3 linked regions of the Homo sapiens genome follow. The protein of the gene in region 1 purifies or fractionates together with the protein of each later gene. This does not show direct contact. Each region holds a gene or a part of one and is shown on either strand. Other genes may lie near its edges. The genes, in order: ZNF8, MRRF and NFX1.

Region 1 (3,752 bases):
TAACAAGTAACTATACTGTTCCCTGCTATGTGTCTGGCTCTTGGTAAAATTTAAAAAAGTTAAAAATTGTTGTGGTTTGAATGCAACATTTTTGAATGGAAATCTGCTTCCCCATTTTTCTTTTTTAATAACTTTTTATTTTTTTTTTGAGACGGAGTCTTGCTCTGTCACCCAGGCTGGAGTGCAGTGGCCTGACCTCGGCTCACGGCAACCTCCGCCTCCCAGGTTCAAGCGATTCTCCTGCCTCAGCCTCCCGAGAAGCTGGGACTACAGGTGCCCGCCACCACGCCGGGCTAATTTTTGTATTTTTAGTAGAGACGGGGTTTCACCATATTGGCCAGGTTGGTCTCGAGCTCCTGACATCGTGATCCACCCGCCTCGACTTCCCAAAGTGCTGGGATTATAGGCGTTAGCCACCGCGCCCGACCTTTAATAAACATTTTAATGGACTACAACAGACCCACAGAAAAAGACACATCACAAAGTGAACACCCACAGGGAGAAGCAATAGGGCTGTCAGAGGCATTCGACCCAGAGCGACTCCATTTTGAGTGAGGGCTAGGAAAATGAGGCTGGGCTGCATTCCCAGAAAAGTAGGTATTCCTAACCTCTAGATGTTTACGGTTAAGGGAACAAATTAATAATGGGTACTAAAACAGACCCAGACTTGGGAGTGTCCAGATATCCCGGTATCTAGAGAACAAAGGCATTCCTAATTTTGCTTTAAAAATAATATCGATTCTTGAAAAATACAGTAAGAAAATTAATCCTTTTTCACAAACCCTTGTAGCAGAGCACATCTCCCCAAAATCTATTTTTAGCCCAAATATACACAAGCATTGTACCTAGGGTGCATACGTTCCTCTTACTTTCAGGAACGTCCTACTGTCTATGGGGTAGCTGTTTCACAACTTTACTTTCTCAACAAACTTGCTTTTACTTTGCACTGCGGACTCGCCCTGAATTTTTTCTTGCGCGAGATCCAAGAACCCTCCCTTGGGGTCTGAATCGGACCCCTTTCCTGTAACACAACCACCGCTCCCAGCCTCCCCGCTTCCAGCCGCTAAGCCCAAAGTCTTTTATATGAACAAACCTCTAACTCGTCCTGTGACTTTGATGCGTGTGCGTTTTAGGCACCGGGGAGCAGAGGGTAAAGCGGCGCAGCTCCGGGCCTCCTCCCGCGCAAGTTCCCGAGAAGAGCAGGTCCGGCCCGCGCAGACGTGCACGGTCCCCAGCCATTAGGAGGAGCAGACGGTCCCCACCCCCACAATCAGTCATCTCTCGGGGTCCGCCCTTGCTTCCTGCCCACGAGTGAGGCCTCTGGTTGCCCGCAACCTAAGGGGCATCGCAGCCCCGAGCAACACCGCCCCCACCAGCCTTAGCTGAGTGCTCCCATTGGCCAGAGGCCAGCGGGTGGGGGCTCCCATTGGCCATCGGCCATAATGCTTCCATTGGTCGAAGGCCAGACCAGCGGAGACTCCCATTGGCCGAGGGCTGTGGTTCGCCGCACGGCCTACTGGGAGTTGTAGTCGCCGCGTCGCCGGTGCGGCCGCCATTGTCCGGCGTTCGGCGAGTCGGGTGGTCCCTTTGGCTGGAGTGCCTCTCTGGTCTGGGGATCACCTCAGGCGCTGTCCTTCACTGGGCGATCCAGCATGGACCCCGAGGACGAAGGGGTAGCGGGAGTGATGTCTGTGGGGCCGCCGGCGGCCCGGCTTCAGGTAACAATAACAACAATAACGACGGCGGCGGGCTCCGGGCAAGCGTCTCCCGCGCAGACTGACCCTTTCACCTCGCGGCGCGATGAGAGCGGCACCGCTGTTAATGCCCTTGACACGTGGGGAAACTCAGACGCGGGTCGGGGCGTGGTGACCGTCCTGGCTGGTCAGAGAGGGGGCCGGGATTCCAACCAGGCGCCTGGCCCCCGAATGCGCATGCTCCACGCGGCTCTGTCCTCCCCAGGGCTGGGGTCGGTCATTCCCGAGAGAATCGAGCAGGCCCATCTCCTGCGTTCTGCTCCGCCCCGCCGACACCCTTGCCCATTCCAGGAAGGTCTGTCCTCGTGTTGACTGATAACAGTAATTGTAGCGTTGGCCGGGTGCCCAGATGGCAAGAATCATCGAATAGAGATGCTTTAACGCGTGGAGTCAGCGGACACCCACCGGGACCCCAGCACCGCGGAGCCCCTGCCCTGGGGCTTGGGCACAACCTCTTGGGGGCAATGATGGGTCACCACGCACTGAGTGTGATGAGAGTGACCACCAGGGTCGTCCCCTGCGAGACTGTGGGAGAACTGCAGTGCAGGGCGGTCAGTGTTTGCAGGGCCATCTGGCCATCAGAGCTCCACTTTCTAGACAAAGTGGTTGCGGCCTGTGTTCTCCATAAAGCTGCCTCGCGTGGCAGGAAACAACAATAATTATCCTTCCTCAAGCTCTGCAACTTTGAAATTATACTTTTTTTTATTTTTTGTCGTTGGTTTGTTCATGGGGATTTGCATTATTTCAGATTTGGTACACAAAGTGAGACTTGATAATCTTAGGTTGCAGGTTTTCAGATGTGTGTTGCTCCAAATTTGCATGAAATGCTACCACGTTTTATTTTGTTCTTGCTGTGGATGGGGGACAAGGAATGAGTCGTAAGAAAGGCTTGAGAGAAAGTGTATTAGTTACCTGTTGCTGTGTAACTCAAAACTTCGTGACCTGGAACAACAATAAATATCTCACGAGTTCTGACAGGAGTAATGGAATGTCCTAGCTGGTGGTTCTGGTTCAGGCCCATGAAGTTACAGTGAAGATGTCAGCATAGCTGTTGTCACCTGAGACCTGAGTCTGGAGGATCCACCTCCAGGATGGCTCACTCACATGTCTGTTGATAGGAGACCTCAGTTGTTCTCCATGTAGGCCTCTCTTTGGAACTGCTAGGGATCCTTGCAACATGGCATCTGGCTTCCCACAGAACAAGTGATCCAGGAGAGGGCAAGGTAGAAACTGTAACACCTTCCATGACCTGGATTCAGAATTCACACTCTTGTCACTTCCACGGTGTCTTACTGGTTACAAAGTCAACCTTGTTGAGTGTTGGAGGGGACCACACCAGGGCTGGAGGTCATTGGCAGAGGTGGTGGGGGAGCATCTTGGAGACTGTCCATCACAGGAGACAAGGACCAGAATGGAGAGCTTCAAGGTCCAGTGTTTTATCTGGTTATCTGTGTCTGCTGTAACAATTCACTACAAATTTTGTGGCTTAAAACATTTGTTCTTAGGTTCTGGAGGTCAGAAGTCTGAAATCGGTTTTCTGGTCTGGAATCAAGGTATGAGCAGAGCTACCCTCCCTACCAAGGTTCTAGGGTAGAATGTTTCCTCGTCTTTTCCAGCTGTGAGAGGTACAGACCTTCTATTCCTTGCCTCATGGCCCTTTGCCTGTCTTCAAAGCCTGCATTGTAGCATGTTGCTTCAGTGATCATATTGCCTTATGTCTTCTATAGTCATAGCTCCCTTTGTCTACCTCTTATAAAGACACTTGTGATTGCATTTAGGGCCCACCTGGATAATCCAGGATAATTTTTCTGTTTGAAAATCCTAATCACATCTGCACAGTTCCTTTTACCATATATAGTAATATTCACAGGTTCTAGGAACTAGGACCTGGATATCCTTGGAGGCCATTATATATCTCAGTCTACCATAGCCAGGCTGAGAGGAGCCATCCAGTATTCAGTGATGAGAAGGAGCCATTCACGTGTTTTAAGCAGGACT
Region 2 (3,652 bases), on another chromosome or scaffold:
ATCATGAAAAATGACCGTCTATTAGGGCAAAAGAAAGCCTCAAAGTGGCTTTTGAGGATACAAGCTTTTATGATCACTCTTTGTCTAACCGCAAAGTTTCACTGAGTGGTTTCAATGCAACAAAGAATGTAGAAGCAGTTTGAAAACTAAAAAGCACCAAGCAAATATTAGTTACTGATCTGTCAATACTGTTATTGTTGTTATTATTATCATTATTCACTGCTTGGTGAACATTTTGCTTGCTCTCTGACATATTCTAGAGAAGTTGGCCAAACAGGTGGGGGATTAATATGTAATCTTTACTGTCTCCATAAGAGCTACCATTTCTTTGGTGTTTACAATGTGCCAGGTACTATGCTATTTTACTTGCAGTCATTAATTAGGAACAGCTTGCTATGTGTTTTATGAAAGCAAGACTTCTGCTTCTCTCACATCACCGTCCAGGTCCAGAACAGCGCGAGGTCCCTTTTGAGTAAGTGTTCAGCGAAGACTTGGGAACCAAAGCACACTGATTAAGGACCTACTTCAAGGTCAGATGTGGGTTTGAAATTTCATTCTAGCACTTACTACCTGTGTGACCTTGGGCAAGTTAAATATCCTTTCTGAACCTGTTTTTTTCACAGAAAAACACAGATAATCATAACACCTACATTAACAAGGATTCATCAGAAGTTTCAATGTGGGAACACGTGTAAAGGGTCTAGCATGGAACCTGGCCGACTGTAGGCATTCAATAAATGTTAGCCTGAGGTTGAAGGAGAAAGAGCAGACCTTATCAGATAATCTTAGAATAGGGGCCTTTCTTTTTTCTTAAAAAAAAAAATCATCTTTAAACATTCTCCAATGCATGTGAAATAATTTTTAAATAGTGTCATGGGCTAATAGTGAATTAAGTTATGGTAGACCCATATTATGGAATACTGTATCACAATGAAATAATAAATTGTATCTATTATGTACACACATGGACAGATGACCATGATTGTTACAGGGTAAGAAAAAAAAGCAAACATCAGAATATGAATAGTTCCCCTCTCTCCTTCTAAAAAATTATATGGCCGGGCGCAGTGGTTCATGCCTGTAATCCCAGCAATTTGGGAGGCTGAGACAGGTGGATCACCTGAGTCAGGAGTTCAAGACCAGCCTGGCCAACATGGTGAAACCCCATCTCTACTAAAAAAAAATAAAAAATTAGCTGGGTGTGGTGGCGGGCGCCTGTAATCCCAGCTACTCAGGAGGCTGAAGCAGGGAAAACTGCTTGAACCAGGGAGGCAGAGGTTGCAGTGAGCCGAGATTGCGCCAATGCACTCCAGCGTGGGCGACAGAGCAAGACTCCATTGCAAAAAAAAAAAAAAAAAAATTATATATGGCCAGGCAGAGTGGCTCACACTTGTAATCCCAGCGCTTTGGGAGGCTGAGGCAGAAGGACCGCTTGAGGCCAGGTGTTTGAGACCAGCCTAGGAAACAAAGCAAAAAAAAAAAAGCCAGGTGTGGTGGTGCATAGCTGCAGTCCCAGCTACTCAGGAGGCTGAGGTGGGAGAATTGCATGAGCCAAAGAGTTCAAGGCTGCAGTGAGCTATGATTGTGCCACTGCATGATGGGCGACAGAGTGAGACACTGTCTCAAAGGCAAAACAAAATGAAACGAACACACACACACACACACACATATATGCACAGAGAAAGGAGGTCTGGAAAGATATATACCTAATTTTAAAGGAGTAGGGCCTGGTGAGATTTTTTTTTTAACTTTCTGCATTCCAACTTATTTTGTAATTTCCAACACACACACACACACACACACACACACACACACACACACACACACACACACACCAGACAGGAAAAAAATTCTCAAATTCTCTCTGGCCTGAATATTTCATAGGACTTTGAAAGTCATTAAACTGAATAGAAGAGGTGGTTAATTCTTCTGGCAAGTGTGAGAATTTCCATACCCAGTGTTTCTTTTTGAGAGAGGCTGTAGGAGAGAAGAGATGGAGAATGAATTGCTCCAGCATTACTCATTCTCAGCACATCCAAACAGGTAGTCTCATTCTTGTCCCTGTCACCACTACAGCCCTGACACAGAGTCACAGAGAAACTCTTTGATAAATGTCAACTGAAATTGAGTAATCATCTGAAAGCCATTTGCTGAGCTGTCTGACTGCCCTGGGCTCGAGGTTTTCCTTTATTCATTTATCATGATACAGCTTTGGCCAACATACACACAGGAGAGAAATTGTTGACATGTGGAACCCAAGTACAGAAAATCTTTCATTTTCCTCCCTGTCTGTTCACCAAATAAGTTTTTGTTTATTTAAAGACTACAGAGGATTTGGCTGTTAAGAACCAAATGCCTTTGGAGTGGAATTACAACATAATTTATCATTTCCTCTGTTTATTAAAAAATCCTGCATCTTTGAGAAGCACATTTGCAGTGAGTGGGGGATTTCGGCCACTCATGAAAGACTGTTGCAAAGCCCCTGTCATGTGGCTTACCCCAAAAGAGGCTCCTTAATTGCTCTATCTATCCCTGCTCTTCCCCCAGCTGACTTCTGATCATGTGATGACCACTTAGGGCTGGTGGATGGGGTTAGAGGACAGGTAAGTGGGGCAGGAGACTGTGTTAGTTTAACTTTGACCCAATTTTGACCTTGAATCCTCACTGCATGTTTCACCAGTGTAAGTAAAGAGGGAAGTGCAACCCTTATTACCTCCAGCACAGGAGAGAATCTGGAGGAAGTCAAAGAGCAAAGAGAAGTTGGATGTTGCTTTGAAAGAACTCAGCCAGGCCTTGCCACCACCAAAGTGGGCTCCATTCTGAAAGCAGACACCTTGCAGAACTGGAATGAACTTCCTACTTTTCCACCCAATAGATTATTATAGACAGCAATTTAGTTCAGTGCACTATGTACCCCCCCAAAACAGGGGTCATATCTTTCCCATTTTTGTATTGCCAGTACATAGTTCAGCACCTGACAAACAATTGGTGCTCACTAAATGCTAATGAAGGCAGCAGGACACAGTGGTTCCTTCCAGATTGGTGAGGTGCTGAGAGAGTGTGAGCCCAGAGAAGGCATGGAAGCTCCACACCCTCTCCCTCTCCCTCAACCTTGCCCTGTGTACCTCCTTCATTGGGCTGTTCAGCTGTATCTTTTATAATAAACCAGTGAACGTGTTTCCCTGAGTTGTGTGAGCTGTCCTAGGAAATTAACTGAACCAAAGGAAATCAAGGACTCTAGTTTGTAGTTGGTCAGTCAGGAGTATGGGTGGCCCAGACTCATGACTGGCATCAAAAGTGTTGGCAGTCTTGGGAGATGGAGCCCTCAACCTGTGGGATCTGACACTATTTCCAGGTAATGTCAGAAATGAATTGAATTATAGGATACCCAGTTGGTGTCTGCTGGAGAATTGCTTGGTGTGTGGGGGAAACAAACTCACACACCTTGTCACAGAAGTGTTCCATGTTGAGTGTGAAAGTACAAAAGGAAAAAAAGTTTGTTTTTTTCCTTTTACATTAGCACATCAGGCCTCAATTTGAATGCCAGCTCTGCTACTTGCTAGGTGTGTAACCCTGCACAAGAAACTTCACCTCTATGTAAATGACGCTGACAATGAATCATGAAAACCTTCTACCACTGATCAGCTTTGCT
Region 3 (3,652 bases), on another chromosome or scaffold:
CCACTAGTCTGTAAGCTCCTTAAAAACAGACACTGTATATTTCTTTTCTTTTTTTGTGACCCTGCTGCCCCACACAGCTCTTGAAACATAGTAGGTACTCAGTTCTGACCATTAAAAAGTTCATCCTTATATTGAACTGAAAGCTTCTTTCCTTTCCTTCCTATCCTTTGGTTCAAGTTTTATCCTCCGGAGCAGCATAGTAACTAGTCTGTCTTCTCACAGCTCCCCCTCTCCTTACTGCAAATCAGCTTTTTGCAGTATTCGAAGACATCTATCATTTTGCCCTAAGTGTATATTTCATCAAGCTGAATAGTTTTATTCTGCTAGCTCTTCCTCCTGGACCTTCACTATCTTAATCCCTCTCCAGTTTAATGTGAGATACAGCCCAACCCTTGAAGCCACCATCTACCCAGGGCCTGTTTTTACACCAGCCTATAGTTCTAGTTTCTTGCTTTATCAGGATTATTCTTGGAACCTCAATGTATATGTGAAGCAAAGCAATGTTATACCAGAGTTGTTACTGAATCCTTAAGGCTGGTTAATAATTACCTCTTGCTTTATAGTGAATTATCACAATGTAGTGGCTTATGATAACACACATTTACTATGCCACTGTTTCTGTGGGTCAGATGAATGGGTCCTGGTTAGCTGGGTTCTCTGCTCAGTGTCTCCAAATTTGGCTAGGCATGTGATCTCATCTGAGGCTCAGGGTTCTCTTTCAGTCACTGGTTGTTGGTAGGATTCAGTTCCTTACAGATGTAGGACTGAGGTTCCTGTTTTCTTGCTGGCTGTTGGCCAGGGGTGTCTCTCTCAGCTCCTAGAGGCCACCTGTGTTTCCCTGCCACATGACTCTGTACACAACATGATAGTTTGCTTCTTTGAGGCCTGCGGGAAAGCAGCTGCTGCCACTTCAGATCTCTCTGACTTCTGTTTGATTTTCAACTCTTTTAAAATGGCTTACTTGATTAAGTCAGGCCCACCCATACTCAAGGGGAGGAGATTATATAGGGTATGCATACCAGGGAGGTGGGAATCTGGAAGACCATCTTAGAATTCTATTTAACAAATCTCTTGGGGCCTTAACATTCTCACATTATTCATATCATTTTTGAGAACACTTCATTCATATTTGTTGCATAAATACTATATACCAAGCACTGTTCTAGGTACAGGGAATGCTGATGGAATTTACATTCTGGTAGGGAAGACAGGCAGAAAGCACTTAGATATTTAATATGTCAGGTGGTGATAAGGACTAAAAAGAAATATTAAGAAGGTTAAGAAGACAGAGTGACAAGAGTGCTATTTTACATAGGTTGACCTCTTTGATAAGGAGACATTTGAACAGAGACAAGAATGAAGTACAGAAATGCACCATGTGGCTAGCTTGAGAAAGAGCATTCTAGGCAGAGGGAGGAGCAAATTTAGATGTGGGGAGGGGTATTATAGGCAATGAAGATAGGGGCAGGAAAGGTGGTCAGAGAAATAGCAAGGGCTGGATCATGTGAGTCCCTTGGATTTGGTTCTGAGTAAGATGAGAGGCTGCTGGAAGGTCCTGGGAAGAGGGATGTCATGAACTTACATTCTAAAATAATCACTTAGGGTCTGGATGTGGTGGCTCACATCTGTAATCCCAGCACTTTGGAAGGCCAAGGCAGAAGGATTGCTTAAGCCCAGGAGTTCAAGACCTGCCTGGACAACTTAATGAGACCCCATCTCTGCAAAAGGCAAAAAAATAAAAATTAGCTGGACGTGGTGGCACATGCCTATAGTCCCAGCTACTCAAGAGGTTGAACTAGGAGGATCGCTTGAGCCCAGTGGGTCAAGGCTGCAGTAAGTAGTGGTTGTGCCACTGCACTCTAGCCTGGGTGACAGAATAAGAACCTGTCTCAAAAAAAAAAATATTATTAAGCTGCTGTGTGGAGAATAGGCTCTAAGAAGGCAACAGGACAAGTTAGGAGGCTATTGCAGTTGTTCAGGTAGGAGATGATGGAGACTTAGACTGGAGTAATAGTGTGGAAAAGGTAACAATTGGATAGATTTTGGATGTATTTGGAAGGAAGATTTTATGCCTGAGCAACTTAAAAGAATGGAATTGGCATTTACTGAAGTGTCAAAGCCTAGTAGAGAAAAAGGTGTTTGTCTGTAAAATGTTTCAGTTTGGAATAATTTCAGATTTATAGAAAAGTTGCAAAGATAGTTCAAAGAATTCCCATATATCTTTCACCCAACTTCCTCTAATGTTAACGTCTTACATAACCAGACTGCCTTTGTTAAAACTAAGAAATTAGCACTGGTATAATCATATTAACTAAACTACAGATGTTATTCAGATTTCACCAGTTTTTCTGCCAATGTCCTTTTTCTGTTTGAGGACCCAATCCAGGATACCACGTTGCATTTAGTCATGTCTCCTGAGTCTCCTACCATCTCTGACAGTTTCTTCATCTTTCCTTTTTGGAAAAGATGTTTCTGCTCTTGTTTTATTTACTTCTTATTCAGGGAAGATTTTTGTTTAATTTGGTTAAATTTCTGTAATCCCAGTACTTTGGGAAACCGAGTCAAGAGGATCACCTGAGCCCAGGAGTTCAAGACCATCCTGGGCAACAGAGGTAGACCCCATCTCTACAAAAACTAACAAAAAAATCAGCCAGGTATAGTGGCACACGCTTGTGGTCCCAGCTACTCAGGATGCTGAGGTGGGAGGATCGCTTGGGCCCAGGAGTTTGAAGATGCAGTGAGCCACGATCATGCCACTGCACTCGAGCCTAAACTTTGGTGACGCCTGTAACTTTCACAGAAAGAGGTTGTGGAACAGACTAAATATCACTCATTTATTCCTTTATCCATGAATTTAACAAATATTTAATGGAGCACCTAGTATATGCCAGACACTGGAAATACTACACTCAGCAAGGTAGACAAAACTCTCCCTTCTCCTGAGCTTTCAGTCTCAGGGTGTTCTCTATTTCTTTTGACATTAAACTGAACAATCAGAAAGTAAATCTTAGGAGAGCCAATATTATGGAATATTACAGTGTGCGCTTTTGAGTCAGATAGTTTGACAAGTTTGAATTTTGACTTTTAAATTTCTAGTTGTGTGACCTTGGATAAATGATCTAACTACATGAAGCCAGTTTCTTCATCTGTAAAATGGTACCTATGTTATAGCATTTTTTTTTTTTTTTTTTTTTTTTTTGAGACGGAGTCTCACTCTGGAGTGCAGTGGTGCAATCTCGGCTCACTGCAACCTCCGCCCCCGGGTTCAAGAGATTCTCCTGCCTCATCCTCCTTGGATTACTACTGGGATTACAGCCACACTCCACCACGCCCAGCTAATTTTTGTATTCTTAGTAGAGATGGGGTTTCACCATGTTGGCCAGGATGGTCTTGATCTCCCGACCTCATGATCTGCCCGCCTTGGCCTCCCAAAGTGCTGGTATTACAGGTGTAAGCCACCGTGTCCAACCTGTTACAGCCTTTTTGAGAGGACTAAATAATAATATGTAATGTGCTTGCAATGTTGTATTTAAGGTTAATTTTATTCTTTTAACTTATTTAGACCTGAAAGCAAATAACAATAATATTATGAAATAAATGCAGTGCTAAAAGTATGTACTCAAAAAAGCATATACACACACTCACACTCAGT

Evidence for each region.
Region 2: the proteins of ZNF8 (region 1) and MRRF purify together in Homo sapiens (affinity purification with mass spectrometry; one large-scale study listed by BioGRID and IntAct). This does not show direct contact.
Region 3: the proteins of ZNF8 (region 1) and NFX1 purify together in Homo sapiens (co-immunoprecipitation; one large-scale study listed by IntAct). This does not show direct contact.

The regions. Positions count from the first base shown.
Region 1 is NC_000019.10:58,277,430-58,281,181, forward strand, and holds the start of ZNF8 (zinc finger protein 8), read left to right. Parts: upstream 1-1,525; 5' UTR 1,526-1,652; coding exon 1,653-1,718; exon of another isoform or gene 1,719-3,180; intron 3,181-3,752. UniProt on the Homo sapiens protein: Transcriptional repressor. May modulate BMP and TGF-beta signal transduction, through its interaction with SMAD proteins.
Region 2 is NC_000009.12:122,323,815-122,327,466, reverse strand, and holds part of MRRF (ribosome-recycling factor, mitochondrial isoform 1 precursor), read right to left. Parts: 3' UTR 1-3,652. UniProt on the Homo sapiens protein: Responsible for the disassembly of ribosomes from messenger RNA at the termination of mitochondrial protein biosynthesis. Acts in collaboration with GFM2. Promotes mitochondrial ribosome recycling by dissolution of intersubunit contacts.
Region 3 is NC_000009.12:33,296,893-33,300,544, forward strand, and holds part of NFX1 (transcriptional repressor NF-X1), read left to right. Parts: intron 1-3,652. UniProt on the Homo sapiens protein: Binds to the X-box motif of MHC class II genes and represses their expression. May play an important role in regulating the duration of an inflammatory response by limiting the period in which MHC class II molecules are induced by interferon-gamma.